3 linked regions of the Homo sapiens genome follow. The protein of the gene in region 1 interacts with the protein of each later gene in a pairwise test. Each region holds a gene or a part of one and is shown on either strand. Other genes may lie near its edges. The genes, in order: RAB3GAP1, RAB39B and RAB39A.

Region 1 (4,249 bases):
AGTTTTAAATGTCTGGCTGAAGTAAACTGTTAGAATTTATTCATGTAACTTTTCATTAGCTGATACTTTATATCAATTTTACTAATTAGTCAAGATTTTAACACATTTTTTTAAAAAGTTGTGATGTAATTTCACTTGGTGTTTTTATAGCTTATAGTAATTCTATATATTTATAACTTTTCTTTAAAATTATAAATAGTAATAAGCCTTATCATGATTATAGGTATCTCTGGTATGTACATACTTAAATGGAATTCAGCAAATAAATGACTGACTGGATTTCGCTTCAGACTTGCTAGATTGAATAACTGTTAGGCACCTATTCCTAAATTCTATTTTTCAAGCCATGAACACTTTTTTTTTTTTTTGCATCATAATTCCCAGTAAAAGAGCTAGGTTTTTGTTGTTCATTTCTCCCATTAAATGACATCATATGTCACCTGTTGAGCCATGGATGCATGAGTAGTAGTAGATGTCTGCTGTAGTTGACAGCTGGGTGTGCTGTGTTTGGTGTGACTTTGTCTTGAATATTCTTTTGATAGGATCATGTTCCATAATGTAGTGCATACTGTCTTTGAAATAATCCTGAACTCCCTTGTCTAGCCCTATTTAAACCATCTTGCTTGTTTCCCTTTCATCACTGTTTCTTTTCTTACCCCTTCTCAAGCTGACTGAATCTTCTGATGAGGTAACAAAATAGCCTTTGCCCCTCATAGTTCCTTGTTCCTTCCCATCCCTCTAATTTCATAAGGTCATTAACACTAACCACCTCTCTCACAGTCTGGATTTGGCTTACCTACCTTGCTGATGTTTAGCGCAACATGATTTCATGTTTCCATTGCCAAAACAATTTTTTTTCCCAAATTGATGGTATTAAAAAAAGTACAGTAATCAGAATTAAAATTGTAGGCTGTAAATGAACATGCATTTTATGTCATTTCAATGAAAAAATAGATGCCTTTAATATTGCGAACTTCTCTTTTGTGGTCATTGCTATATGGGCCTCTATCACTTCGGCATCACATTAGCTGCCCAGCAAGCAAGACCAATGCCCCCACTTTTAATTTGGCAAGTGAACCTTAAAAAGAATCGATTAAAAAATTCTTACCCAGAGTCAAGATGAAAATCATCTTTTCACTCTGGAGAAAAACAGCTCCTTACTGGACTGAGGCTGTCAGACGTAGACTTGGGTCATTGCTGGAAGAAACATAGAAAGCAGCACAGCTCCGAGGTCCTTTTTCATCAGATGTGTAAATATGGCCTTCTCTCTTCAGAGCAGATTGCCTGGCAGTCATCATCCCTCCTGTCTGTCTCCAGCCCGGCTGCTCATGCAGTGTCTCAAGCTTCTTGCATTTGCTGTGTTATGTGGTTTTTGAGTAATCTTAACATATAGCTGACTGCATTACTGAGTAACGTGGGACATTTTCATATCTTTATTATGTTAATTCATCTGTCCTTCAAAAGCATCTGAGTTTAGCATTTGACCTGCTTTTGACTTTAGCATTTGATTCTTTTCCAGGCTGCAGCTATGACTCCACCAGAGGAGGAATTGAAGAGAATGGGCTCCCCAGAGGAAAGAAGGCAGAACTCCGTGTCAGACTTCCCACCCCCTGCTGGCCGGGAATTCATTTTGCGCACCACTGTGCCGCGCCCTGCTCCCTACTCCAAAGCTCTGCCTCAGCGGATGTACAGTGTTCTCACCAAAGAGGACTTTAGACTTGCAGGTGCCTTTTCATCAGATACTTCCTTCTTCTGATTCTTCTAGCATTACTCGTTGGTGGCTTCAGAGACAGTGCTGCCTCCTCCTGAGGGAGGGAAGGTACCAGGGAGAACCTGGGAGGTCCTGGAGAGGGCCCTGTCCAGTTGGGTGATCAGGAATCAAACCAGCATCGGAAAGACTTCCCAGCACCAAGCTTGAGCTGTGTCGTTTCGTGGAGGGGGCAGCGAGGATGGGCTTGAGCTGTTGAGAGATTTCTGCCCTAGAGATGGCCTTTGTATATGGGGGGGTGGTGGGGGGACACAAACACATCAGACACTCCGTCCTCACACTGGCAGGACGGTGTTCATCGCATTCTCTTCTGTGACCAGCCTCTAGGCTAGCGGCTGCATTCGTGGTCTGTGCAAACACTTCGTGGTTCTATATATCAGCAGCAAGTGTGCAAAATAAAGGACCTGTTAACTCAGATTTCTGGATATTTTGGTGGTAGCTTCTAGTCCCAGAATCTGTGTTTTTAAAATACTACATGACATTCTGTCTATTCAATCACCTGGTGGTCATCTTTCTTGTACTAATTAACTGTTGATGAGCATTTTGGATATTCTAGGAGAAAGCCTATAATTTCACATAGTTTCTCTTTTTCATGTAACTGTAACCTAAATGTATTACTTCTGATAAAACTATATATCAAATGTCACTGCAAATTAGTTTTATATCTGTCATGTGAGATTTGTCTTACTTATTTTTCTTTTGGTTGCCATGGAAGTTATGGCCCTGAAAATCGTCTCCCTCCCCTTCTCTTGCTGTACAGCATGCGTTCTCTTTTTGTGGTTGCTGGCTGGGTACTGTATTTAATGAAGTAGAGAATAGCACTTGCAAAAATACAGTCTTGGTACCTAGAGACTGTCATGCAGATAGTATAATTTGGTATATGTGCTAATGCATTGAGTAGAGGATTATTTTAACACACTATTTTGCTTTTGTATTTTAGTTAAAATAATCGATGGGGATGTGTAGCCCCCCCGTGTGAGGATGACATCACCACATTTCTAGTTTCATGGAGCTCAAGATGTCTTGTGTCTGTGTGGCTAGATGGCCTCTGCTTGGTAATCTTATTTTTAGGCCTAAAATTCCCACTTAAATCCAAAGTAAAAATGGTTATACTGAAGCATAAACCTTGCCTGTGTAATTTTAAAAAATTAATAGAGCTGTGCAAACCCTGTTATTTTTGTAAAAAAAAAAAAAAATACATATCTATATATAATATGTGTGTGTGTGTGACATATGCACACGTCTCTGTGTATGTGAAGTAGGGGAGGCCCTGGGGGATGACCTCCCAGCCTTTATGATGCTTTTCTCTATGCTGCTGGACTTCATTCTTACTGGTCCACGCAGATGCAGGCGGCCTGAGGCCAGTGCTGTACCAAGTAGAAGACGGTTCCTAAGGACAGAGTTTGTCTGTTTTCTAACAAAGAAAAATTCTACAAAGGAGAGGTTGGGCGTTACAAAGGCATTGTGAATCTAATAAAAGGAAAGTGTCGCTTTCTGTGGCGTTTTCTTTCATTTTCTCCCGCTGAGGCATTTCAGTCTAATTTCATGTGGTTTTGTGCTGTCTCAGCTCTAATGTTTGCAGCCTGCTGAGCCTAACAAGGCAGTGGTCTCAAGAACATTCTTTGTGCCTTTTTAAAGTACTCCATTTTATTTTTATGATAGTTATGTATTTATTTCACAGATATATTTAAGTACCCACTTTGTGTCAGGTACAGTACAAGCAATGAAGATAAAACAGAAACCAAAACACACTCCCTTACAGGGAAAACTGACACCACGTTGCCACAAAATGTTGAGTATAGTCAACTCTGCTGTGTGGATCGGAGGGCCTGCATTTATCCTACAAATAATTGAATGTAATCCTACATTCATGTATTCATTGGCAGTACGGAGTAATAAATGCAGCAATGTCATAAAGTGTTGTAGGAGTTTCTTCACCCAGGCTTTGAGGATCAGGAAAATTACCCCAGAGGGTGTGATTTTGGGATTGAGACCAGAAGCTGAGTAGGCACTGGGGAAAGCATGGGGGGCGTATGGGAAATGGCTTGCAGAGAACCAGGCATTCCTCCAGCCCTGTGTGCAATGAAATCATGATTTTCATTGTGAAGTGCTTTATTTCTCCACCTCTTCAATCTGGTCTCGGCCATGTCTTTCTTTGGTCAACAGACAGAGACTTGACAAGTCCTTGCACATTGGGGCTTGCCCTCCCTTCTTGCCAGGAGCCTTGAAGCCACTGTGAAGAAGGCCACTCTAGGGTGAGAGTTGGGGCAAAAGGTAACTGACAGGAGGGGGCAGAAAGCGTATTACAAGCAGAGGAACGGAATGGGCAAAATCCCAGAAATAAGGGAAAATGTCTATTTGGGGGGCAGCCAACATTTCTATTTGGCTGAAGTGTGGTATCTAGAGTGGGAAGGGGCAAGAAATGAAGATGGTGAGGTGAACTAAGGCAAGACCAAGAAGTTCGGGGGAAGCCGCAGCTAC
Region 2 (4,087 bases), on another chromosome or scaffold:
TAAATGTGATAAAGCTGTACAGAACTTAGGCTACCTATCTACTTATGCCCAGACTCAGAATCCATTATCTTTCCTTTTTTTTTTAACCCTCCCCCCACCCTCATGTGTACTATCAATCCTGGGAAATGTGCTGAACTATTGTGTTCTTATGTTGGTGCCACACTGTAAGTGATCCTGGCATAAAAAGCATGCCGTAGTAGGATTTGAAAAAGCTGAGGCAACTTAGCCTGGAAAAAAGAAGACTTTCCAGGGAACATAATAGTTGTAATCAACTACTTGGCAACAGAATTAAGACTCTTGATTAAAAATCATCATGATGAAGATTTAGGCTTGACAGAACCAACTTTTCTCAAAGTGGCATATGCTCACCAGGAAGTATTGAGGTCCCAGGGACTTTTGATATGATGGTCAGATAACTTTCAAAAATTATATTCTCTTTCTGGCTTTAAGGTAATGGTGAATACGATTGTGTATGGTATATGTCACATCTTATTGATATCCTTGGTAGTAGTTGCTACGCTGTAGTAACAGATTCTGGAAATAGCTATAACACACACTTGGAATCTCACAGTCACATAATCAATCATTTTACTAAATACAAGCATATTTTCATTCACATACAGCTAAATAAAGCATTTTTCACATTTCATTACAGTGCACAACAAAGTGAGGAAAAGTATACAGTACATTTTATTCTGAAATATGAGACAATCTAATCCAACATGCAGTTGTGGTCTTTGTTACAAGTTAGTTTATCTTTTCTTTACCTATGTAGTAAAATAGCTTCTAAAGCTTTATCCTTAGTATTATATTAACACCTGATTCTTTTCACACTTATTTTCTAAAACCCACTTATTGCAGTGACAATGGTACTGAATTCTACTAAAATGATTTTTAAATTTTCTAGAACTTATTTAAGCAATTAAGCTCAGCCACCTCTGCTGGATTTATGCTGAATATTTTTAAACCTGCCAGAAAATGCCAGGAGTGGGAATACTGTACATATAATAAATTTTAGTGAAGAAAATTGTAGGGAAGTTTTGTTTCTTTCCTTTTTTGAACTGACAGAATCCAGTCGACTCTCATTTACCCACTGGATAATCTTGCTTTCAGAATCTTCTAAACATAATTCAGTATAGCAGTTGATGAAATTTTGTGTTAATGAAATTTGCCATGTTTTGTTTGTCTTTTACAACCACGAAGGTGGCAATTTAATTACCCCACCTAAGCCAGCTCTTGTGAAATGAATATAGAGAAGATGATCAGTTCACTTGTAGTTAATGCTGTGAACTGATCCAAAGTGGTTTGCTCATCCAACTTGGGGCACAGGTGGCAGAATAGTCTTCCATAATTTTCATGATTTGGTTTCTTTATTCTGGCTAAAGCAAATTCCCAAAGTTTCAGATTCGGTCACATTCATACTGAAGTTCAATATTATATCTCAAAGCGATTTGCCATTCTTAGGCCTTCCTATCACAATGGATATGAGAAACCTGACTCTAGTCAGAATAGTTTTTTTTTTTAATTGTGAAAAGTATGGCTTTTGCCTAGCTGAACTGGCTACAATCCAAAAAGTAATTTAAAGCATCACCTCTCTTCAAGAAAATAATGGAAACTTCAAGCCAGCCATTCCAATTTGCTGATGCAGTTAGCTGTTTGTTCACCTGAGAATTAAGGGCTGACTCTCTTGGGTAGACAGGAACTCAGTGTACGTATATGGCAGACAGGTGGCCAAGGTCATTTTGGGGTGGGTATTTTATCCCTATCCCACTCCGCATTGCTGTACGTGGTTCCTTTCAATAAAAATCCACTGTGTCTCAGTGATAAGAACACTTATAGCCCACACAGTTCTAATGTCTTTTTAGTTGTGCAATTATTCACTTGTTTAAAGCCCTCTTGTCAATAATGCCTGAATGGGCTTTACCTTTGATTCCTTCCCATGTTCCCTCAGGATTATAGCTGAGTTGTAATCAATAAGGAAAACATATCCTAACATGTAGAGAACATTTATTTATAGTCATATCTCTTCCCAAGTAAACAAATTCATAATCATTTATTCATCTGACAGCAGTATGATGCAGTGAAAAGAGCTAGGAGTCACGAGTCCTTGACCCTGGCCAAGTGATTTTCATGGCTCTTAGTTTACTATTCTGTAAAATGGGGCAAAAACCTCGTAGGCCTGTTATGATGATCAAATAAGTAGCCCAAGTAACTGTAAGCTGTTTGTAAGGGTTACAGTGCCTCCTGTTCAGCAGGAGAGAGTGTTTGCCTCAGGGCTCTTTTCAGAGGCAGTCACTGTGTTGTCACTGTCACGTGCCTGAAGAAGCAAGCAGACTGTTTACTTCCAGATTGCAGGTGCCAAGGCATTGAAACCCCAGGCATGGTCAAAGGAAAAAGGGGGTATGGCATTTGGGTTATAGTGTCTCTTTCCTAGTTATAGGGTAATTTGCATGGGACAATTTGTTTCATACAGCTGGTAATTCTATCACAAGGGTGTTCATTTTCTGAAATGTGCTAATAACTGTGTCGATTGCCTTCCTTTCCATAGTCACATCATTTTTACTTGAACACCAGACCTTTTGGTCTGTGTTCCTCATTTTACAGAAAGCTGTTAAAAGCTAATTGGTACCTTTTAACCAAACCCAGCAAACACCTTTGGTGCAGGGTATTCTCACGGAATAAGTAGAGCTCATAATCTTTGTTTAGTTATGCTAATTGTCCCCATTGTGAAACTTTTTTCCCCTTTATGTATTTCTTTATGTTCATGGCCTATAAGTGAGCTCAAATACCAAGGAACAGTTGTCCTGTCTGTAGGTATGTTTTCCTGGGACTTAGCTTCCTAAACCCCAGGCCTTTAACATGTGGTCCACAAAGGGCTCATGGAGCAGCCACTGCCTAGCATGGGCCACAAAACAGTGCCTGGCCTGGCCCATGTCAGCAATTCAGTCCCTTGGTCACAGCACTCAGGCACCCCCATCCACCCGCACACGAGTCTGTCAGAGTCCCCCTGAGAGGGAGGCTCACTTGGTATCCAAATGGAGGTTGAGTTCTCATCAGTTACACAAAGATTCTATTTATTTCTCTTACTTTTCAGTTCAAGTAGGAGAGCATGTTTTGGAAATAAAAGAACTGACTAGCACAAACATCTCCTCTCTGATTTGACAACCTCTTCTGAAGAGTGAACCACATTTGGTACAAATCCACTCTTCACCCCTTCCCAGCCCTCCTGGATTGTAATCTCCCCCCTTTTAACCAGCTCATATATGTCTCTTGTCAGGTCTGTGAAGGCTTTCTCCACATTAATGGCATCTCGGGCTGACGTTTCAATGTACTTCATGCCGTATGCAGCAGCCAGTTTCTCGGCCTCGTGGCGAGTCACTTGCCTCTGTGTATCCAGGTCACACTTGTGACCCACCAGAACAAATACAATTTGGTAGGGCTGAACGTGTACTTTGGTCTCTTCTAACCACTCATGGACATTCTGGAAGGACCTGCGGTTGGTAATGTCAAATAAGAGAAGACCACCTACTGAGTTCCTGTAGTAGGCGCGAGTGATGGATCTAAAACACAAGAAAGAAGTAAAGAGTAAAGGCTGTGCCCAAACTTCTGCATGTCAATGAACTCAGTATATTCAAGTGTTCCTGGTTAGTGACACAGTCCTTTAATAAAAATGATTTTCTTTTTTTTTAAAAAAACAAAGGAATACAAATGGCATTCCATACTACTACTAATATGTGAGTTTCCAATTGGGCCAAACTTTGAGATGGGCATCTTCTAGAAACGAATGTTCATGAACTTTTAGGCATTTTCCATGGATTCAGCACTGGAGAGTGACCCTGGGACATAACTGAGTTCTATTTCTTGCCTTCAGGTAAAACTACAACTAACTCTCCCACCCCCCAAATCTGAATAACTGACAGAGACTTCCTTTTCTGCAAAATAGGATACCCAAGTCACAGTGTTACCATGAGGCAAAATGAAACAATGGATATTAAAGTGTTCTGTGACGTGGAGAGTTCATTACAAATGCTAGCAGTTGAAACAGGATTTTTAAAACATAGAAATGAATTTATGATAGTTAACAAAA
Region 3 (7,330 bases), on another chromosome or scaffold:
TCAAGTGATAGTCTTACCTCAGTCTCCCAAGTAGCTGGGACTACAGGGGCACTCCACCATGCCCACCTAATTTTTTTTTTTTTTTTTTTTTTATAGACGAGGTCTCACTATGTTGCCCAGACTGGTCTCGAACTCCTGGGCTCAAGAGATCCACTCGCTTTGGCCTCTCAAAGTGTTGGGATTACAGGCATGAGCCACTGTGCCTAAAAATGTCTGGCTACACAGATCATCTTTTGGCACTCTGGTGCACTTGTTAGAAACGATGCTGTCTCATTCTTTTTTTTTTTTTTTTTTTTTGAGACGGAGTCTTGCTCTATTGCCCAGACTGGAGTGCAGTGGCGTGATCTCGGCTCACTGCAACCTCCTCTTCCTGGGTTCAAGCAATTCTCCTGCCTCCGCCTCTCGAGTAGCTGGGATTACAGGTGTGCACCATAACCGGCTAATTTTTGTATTTTTAGTAGAGACTGGGTTTCACCATGTTGGCCAGGCTGGCCTCGAACTCCTGACCTCAGGTGATCCGCCCGGCTCGGCCTCCCAAAGTGCTGGGATTACAGGCGTGAGCCACCATGCCTGGCCATCTCATTCTTATATACCATTTTACTCTCAAACACCATAAAATAGACACTTTGGGGGTGACTGCTCATTTCCCTTCTCTGTGAATTTCTCTTTCCAAAAAAGTGGACCTTTACAGATACATTTACATTATCTGACCCATAATACCTACTTAGTATATTTATGTTATAATACATTTGTATTATATGTCTGTGTAACTCAATAACCTGACTGCAGGGGAGCTGATTCACTGGATAGTTAAGTAGTCAATGAGATATTTTTTCTTTCAAGAGTTTGAATAAGAGGCTCAGAGACTGAGAGCTAGGAGCCAACAGAGTTGGAGAAGGGAAATAGACTAGAGGGGAAGTCCACAAACTCTTGTTTTAAAATTTTTCATACTTCCTAGCTGGGCATGGTGGCAGGTGCCTGTAATCCCAGCTACTTGGGAGGCTGAGGCAGGAGAATCACTTGAACCCAGGAGGCGGAGCTTGCAGTGAGCCGAGATTGCGCCACTGCACTCCAGCCTGGGCGACAGAGCAAGACTCCATCTCAAAAAAAAAAAAAATAGTAATAATTCCATACTTCCAAACACCTGGATGTTCAGTGAGCTTTTGCTTTCATGAAATCTGTATCATTTATAATTTATTCCCTATTAAACTAATTTGGGCCTGGTGCAGTGGCTCATGGCTGTAATCCCAACACTTTGGGAGGCCAAGGAGGGAGGATCACTTGAAGCAAGAAGTTCAAAACCAGCCTGGGCAATACAGCGAGACCCTGTCTCTACAAATTTTTTTTTTTTTTAATTAGCTGGGTGCCATAGCATGTGCTTGTAGTCCTAGCTACTCAGGAGGCTAAGGTAAGAGGATCACTGGAGCCCAAGAGTTTGGGCTGCAGTGAGCTATGATTGTGCCACTGCACTTCAACCTGGGCTACACAGCAAAACTCTGTCTCTAAAAAACAAATAAATAAATGAATTTGGCTAGATTTCTACTACTTACAATACACTTTTAACTAAGACATTATATTACCTGATAATAGAACTATAGCTGACCTTTCTATTAACAATAACTTGGAACTACAGTAGACTGCAGTGATTATGGTCATCTCTGCTCTGTTACCTATGCAATTATGGACCCACCAATCATTTTCTTCATTTGTTTTTTTTTTTTTGGAGGGGGAGTCTCGCTCTGTCACCCAGGCTGGAGAGCAGGGGCGCAATCTCGGCTCACTGCAACCTTGCAACCTCCACCTTCTGGGTTCAAGGGATTTTCCTGCCTCAGCCTCCCAAGTAGCTGGGATTATAGGTGTGCACCACCATGCACAGCTAATTTGTTTTTGTATTTTTAGTAGAGATGGGGTTTCACCATGTTTGCCAGACTGGTACCAATCATTTTCTACTGAAGGAACAAAAAATCGTTTTCTTTTGAAGGCCATGAACCACAGTGAGGGAGCTGAGAATCAAATGAGGGACTTTTTAAAAAGAAACAAAACCAAAAATAACTAATTTAGTTTAGAGATTTTAAAAAGTCTCTTAAGAAGAAATTTAAAATGTTAATATTGCTTGCTTTTAAAATTAAGAACAGAGTACATAAATTAAATCACTTTGAAACATTAACTTTATATGGATGTTTGGAAGAGGCAGAAGAGAAAACAGACACATGCGGTAGCCAGTGGGAGAAGAGAAGATAAGCCAGTGGGATAAGGGAAGATAAGCTAAAAGGAAATGGAAGAGTAAGAGACACATTAAAATAAAAATGGGGTGGGGGGAAGAGGATGAAAGTAAACATCAGTATGGATAGACAGAGGAAAGGGGTAAAGAAAAAATAAAAATAAGCTGGAGGGGGACTAATGTCAGAGGCATTCGAACCAGAGTGACTCCATTTTGAGCAAGGGCTAGGAAAATGACGCCAGGTGCAGTGGCTCACGCCTGTAATGCCACCACTTTGGGAGGCCGAGGTGGGCGGATCACTTGAGGTCAGGAATTCGAGACCAGCCTGGCCAACATGCTGAAACCCTGTCTCTACTAAAAATACAAAAACTAGCTGAGTATGGTGGCACACACCTGTAATCCCAGCTACTTGGGAGGCTGGAGAATTGCTTGAATCCAAGAGGGAGAGGTTGCAGTAAGCCAGGATGACACCACTGCCCTCCAGCCTGGGTGACAGAGCAAAACTGTCTCAAAAAAAAAAAAAAAAAAAAAAAAAGTGGCCAGGACTTGCTGGGCTGCGTTCCCCAGAAAGTTGGGCATTCCTAGCCTCTAGATGTTTATGGCTAAGGGAACAAATTAATAATGTTTACTAAACAGACCCAGACTTGGGAGTGTCCAGATATTCCAATATCTGGAGAACAAAGGCATTCCTAATTTTGCTTTAAAGATAATAATATCGATTCTTGCAAAATGTGGTAATTAAGAAAATTAATCCTTTATTAGCTGGGCGCGGTGGCTCACACCTGTAATCCCAGCACTTTGGGAGGCCGAGGCAGGTGAATCACCTGAGGTCAGGAGTTCGAGACAAGCCTGGCTAACAAAGTGAAACCTTGTCCCTACTGAAAATACAAAAAATTAGCCGGGCATGGTGGCAGGCGCCTGTAGTCCCAGCTACTCGGGAGGCTGAGGCAGGAGAATGGTGTGAACCCGGGAGGTGGAGCTTGCAGTGAGCCGAGATCGCACCACTGCACTCCAGCCTAGGCGACAGAGCCAGACTCTGTCTCCAAAAAAAAAAAAAGAAGAAGAAAGAAAATTAATCCTTTATCACAAACCCTTGTGGCAGAGAGCACATCTCCTCATATATATACAAGCATTGTACCTAGGGCGGATGCGTTCCTCCTGCTACTTTCAGGTACGTCCTACTCTGTCTGTGTAGTAGCTGTTCTTTCACCACTTTACTTTCTTAATAAACTTGCTTTCATTTTACACTGCAGACTTGCCCTGAATTCTTTCTTGTGCAAGATCCAAGAACCCTCTCTTGGGGTCTGGATCGGGACCCCTTTCCTGTAACAGTAAGACACCTGGCAAGGAGAAAGATGCATAGCAGAAGAGGAGCTAGGGGAAAAAACATGGAGAGGCAGGCAAAGGCCGGGAAGATTTAGTGGTAATAGTTAGGGGCTGCTCCCAGATTCTGTGGGGAAGGGAGAGGAGGGAGGCTGTCTCTATTTTTTTTTTTTTTTTTTTTTTGAGACGAAGTCTCGCTCTTGTCCCCCAGGCTGGAGTGAAATGGTGTAATCTCGGCTCACCGCAACCTCCGCTTCCTGGGTTCAAGCGATTCTCCCACCTCAGCCTCCTGAGTAGCTGGGATTACAGGCGCCTGCCACCACGCCTGGCTAATTTTTGTATTTTTAGTAGAGATGGGGGTTTCACCATGTTTGGCCAGGCTGGTCTCGAACTCCTGACTTCAGGTGATCCACTCGCCTTGGCCTCCCAAAGTGCTGGGATTACAGGTGTGAGCCACCACGCCCGGCCTGAGGCTTTCTCTTATAGCACTTACTGCTTACAGCCCTTAACCAAGTTAATTAATTGGTTAAGTTTGTCTGCAGGTCTTCCATTGCTACAAACCTCAAGTATTTAGTGGTTCTGCTCAAAGAATATGCTAAGGCAACTTATCAAGGGAGCTATTCCCAAATTATACTCCTTAGAGCACCAGTTATCATAGATTTTCTTTTTCCTCTTTTTAGAGACAGGGTCTAGCTCTGTCACCCAGGCTGGAGTGCAGTGGCATGATCATAGCTCACAGAAGCCTCGACCTCCTGGGCTCAAACCACCCTCCTACTTCAGCCTCCTGAGCAGCTGGGGATGCAGGTCCATGCCACCATGCCCAGCTAATTAAAAAAATTTTTTTTTGGTTAGAGACAGGGTCTTGATTTGTTGTCTAGGCTGGTCTTGAACTCCTAGCTTCAAGTAATTCTCCTGCCTCAGCTTCCCAAAGTGTTAGGATTACAGACGTGACTCACCGCATCCAGCCTAGATTTTCATATTTTAAAAATAGCCCCTAAAATAAATTGGGAAATACTAGGTTAATCAAAGTTAAACAGGTTTCTTTGCTGCAATACTTCTTCGAGCCTTTGATATGAATTTTTAAGAGAGTGCCATATGGAATACAGGGATTTCCAAACTTACTTGATCACAGAATGCTTCTTTTAAAAAGAATCACAGGCTGGGTGCGGTGGCTTACGCTTGTAATCCCAGCACTTTGGGAGGCTGAGGCGGGTGGATCACTTGAGGTCAGGAGTTCGAGACCAGCCTGGCCAATATGGTGAAACCTCGTCTCTACTAAAAGTACAAAAATTAGTTGAGCTTGGGGCGCCTGTAATCCCAGCTACTCAGGAGGCTGAGGCAGGAGAATCGCTTGGACCTGGAAGGCAGAGGTTGCAGTGAGCCGAGATTGCGCCACTGCACAAGAGCAAGACTCCATCTCAAAAAAAAAAAAAGAATCACAGGTGAGGCACAGTAGCTCATGCCTGTAATCCCAGCACTTTGGGAGGCCGAGGCGGGCAGATCACTTGAGATCAGGTGTTCGAGACCAGCTTGATGAAACCTCCATCTCTACTAAAAATACAAAAATTGGCCAGGTGCTGTGGCGCATGCCTGTGGTCCTAGCTACTCGGGAGGCTGAGGGAGGAGAATCGCTTGAACCTGGGAGGTGGGGGTTGCAGTGAGCCGATCGTTTCACTGCACTCCAGCCCCAGGTGACAGAGTGAGACTCTGACTCAAAAAAAAAAAAAAAAAAAAAGAAAGAATAAAAAAGAAGGAAAGAAATACACACACACACACACACACACACACACACACACACATATATATATATAAAGAATCACAGGAAAGAGTGTTCTGCAGAGCACTCCTTGACAGCACTGCACGAGGAGGACATTAATACCCCAAAGGCCAGGTAACGTCAGATAAAAGGCCAAACCTGGCTCAAAGCCTAGAGGTTTCCCATTCTACAGCTAACATTGCTATGTATTTATCTCATATTATATTCATATAACTTTAAACGCTTTTTATGGGAAAAGTTCAAAATTTCTATTCTTACACTTAATGCTCTCCATACACCTAGCTCTTCCAATATAGTTATCCTTATTAACACTGTATTAAACAATATTCTCGTTTCCTTTACTGCTAAACTAATCCCAGCACTTTAGGAGGCTGAGGTAGGCAGATTACACGAGCCCAGGAGCTCGAGACCAGCCCAGCCACCATGTTGAAACCCCATTTCTACTAAAAATACAAAAATTAGCTGGGCATGGCGGCACACACCTGTAGTCCCAGCTACTTGGGAGGCTGAGGCATAATAATTGCTTGAACCTGGGAGGCATAGGTTGCAGTGAGCTAAGATCTGGCCACCACACCCAGCCTGGATGAGAGAGCGAGATTGTCTCAAAAAACAAAACAAAACCAAAATTTATAAAAAAGTGATTACTAGCTTCCCCTAACACCTACAGTGCCAAAGGCATCTTTCCTACATCCTAGGCACATAATGGCCCAGTCTAAGTGTCTCCTTGTAACTAAGATCTCCCCAATGAATTGAGAGCCGAAAGAATCTATACCATGTTGGCCTCACTTGCTTAAAAGAAACTTTGCTTGGTATAGAGCTGCTCTTTCTCCTTCCCCTGAACTGACACACAGTGTGCTTATAACCCAGCTTTGCTCATGTAGATGATGGTAACATCCTAGGCATGGCAGAAAATTAAGGAAGAAGGAAACTGAATGATGGTCTGGTGCAGAACCACTCCACCAACTTGGACCACTCTATACACAAGAGAGAAATAAACTTTCATCTTTAATGAAGGCACTGTAATTCTAAATTTCTTTAATATACAAATCTACAGTTATGTTCACATATACATTATTTTTCTAAATCTTTTTCACTTGGATTTTGTCCCTTTTTATTTCAGGCAAGTAGTTAGCCTCTATTAGCATGTTAGTCTGAACATTGAAAACTAAGGCTGGCCTGGCGCAGTGGTTCAGGCTTGAAATCCCAGCATTTTGGGAGGCCGAGGTGGGTGGACTGCTTCAGCCCAGGAGTTTCAGACCAACCTGGGCAACATGGCCAAACCCTGTCTTTACAAAAAAAGATACAAAAATTAGCTAGGCGTGGTGGTGTGTGTCTGTAGTCTCAGCCACTTGGGAGGCTGAGGCAGGAGAATTGCTTGAGCCTGGGAGGTGGAGGCTGCAGTGAGCCAACATTGTGCCACTGCATTCCAGCCTGAGTGACAGACCCTGTCTCAAAAAAAAAAAAAAAAAAAAGAAGGAAAGAAAGAAAACGAAAGCTAATCACGATCATAATTACCAACTCACTAACCTATTGTTCTGTAATACATTTATTATGCTTTCAAGCTACCTCATGAGCTAAGTAGGTTCCTTTTTGTCAGTTTATATCCAATCACCAATAAACCTTCAAACATGACATTTCCCACAAATTCTTCATGATATGATTATGACTAATGACAGGAATACATCTTCATGACCTACAGTACCTTTCTATAAAATAAAATATGCAATGATATCTATTATTCAAAATTAGAATCTGTAATTTCTTGATGAAAGATACAGAATGATTTAATAGTAATTGTTTTAAATGCAATCTTAAGGTAAAACATTCTGGTAAATGAGAGAAAAGCAAGTATTTGGAGGTAGCTACTGAAATACGTATGTATTTACAAACAGAACTTTGGTAAAGAGCCAAACAAAATAAATTATGACTCACTGTCAGTAAACATTCCCTAAATGTCCTTGCATTATAATGCGAGAGTTACTGTTTGGTTTTAATAATGTACATAAAAT

Evidence for each region.
Region 2: the proteins of RAB3GAP1 (region 1) and RAB39B interact in a two-hybrid assay, tested with the Homo sapiens proteins (one study listed by BioGRID).
Region 3: the proteins of RAB3GAP1 (region 1) and RAB39A interact in a two-hybrid assay, tested with the Homo sapiens proteins (one study listed by BioGRID).

The regions. Positions count from the first base shown.
Region 1 is NC_000002.12:135,167,026-135,171,274, forward strand, and holds the end of RAB3GAP1 (rab3 GTPase-activating protein catalytic subunit), read left to right. Parts: intron 1-667; coding exon of another isoform or gene 668-688; intron 689-1,519; coding exon 1,520-1,756; 3' UTR 1,757-2,708; coding exon of another isoform or gene 2,709-2,734; 3' UTR 2,735-3,685; downstream 3,686-4,249. UniProt on the Homo sapiens protein: Catalytic subunit of the Rab3 GTPase-activating (Rab3GAP) complex composed of RAB3GAP1 and RAB3GAP2, which has GTPase-activating protein (GAP) activity towards various Rab3 subfamily members (RAB3A, RAB3B, RAB3C and RAB3D), RAB5A and RAB43, and guanine nucleotide exchange factor (GEF) activity towards RAB18.
Region 2 is NC_000023.11:155,257,670-155,261,756, forward strand, and holds the end of RAB39B (ras-related protein Rab-39B), read right to left. Parts: intron 3,561-4,087; coding exon 3,134-3,560; 3' UTR 566-3,133; downstream 1-565. UniProt on the Homo sapiens protein: The small GTPases Rab are key regulators of intracellular membrane trafficking, from the formation of transport vesicles to their fusion with membranes.
Region 3 is NC_000011.10:107,931,327-107,938,656, reverse strand, and holds part of RAB39A (ras-related protein Rab-39A), read right to left. Parts: intron 1-7,330. UniProt on the Homo sapiens protein: The small GTPases Rab are key regulators of intracellular membrane trafficking, from the formation of transport vesicles to their fusion with membranes.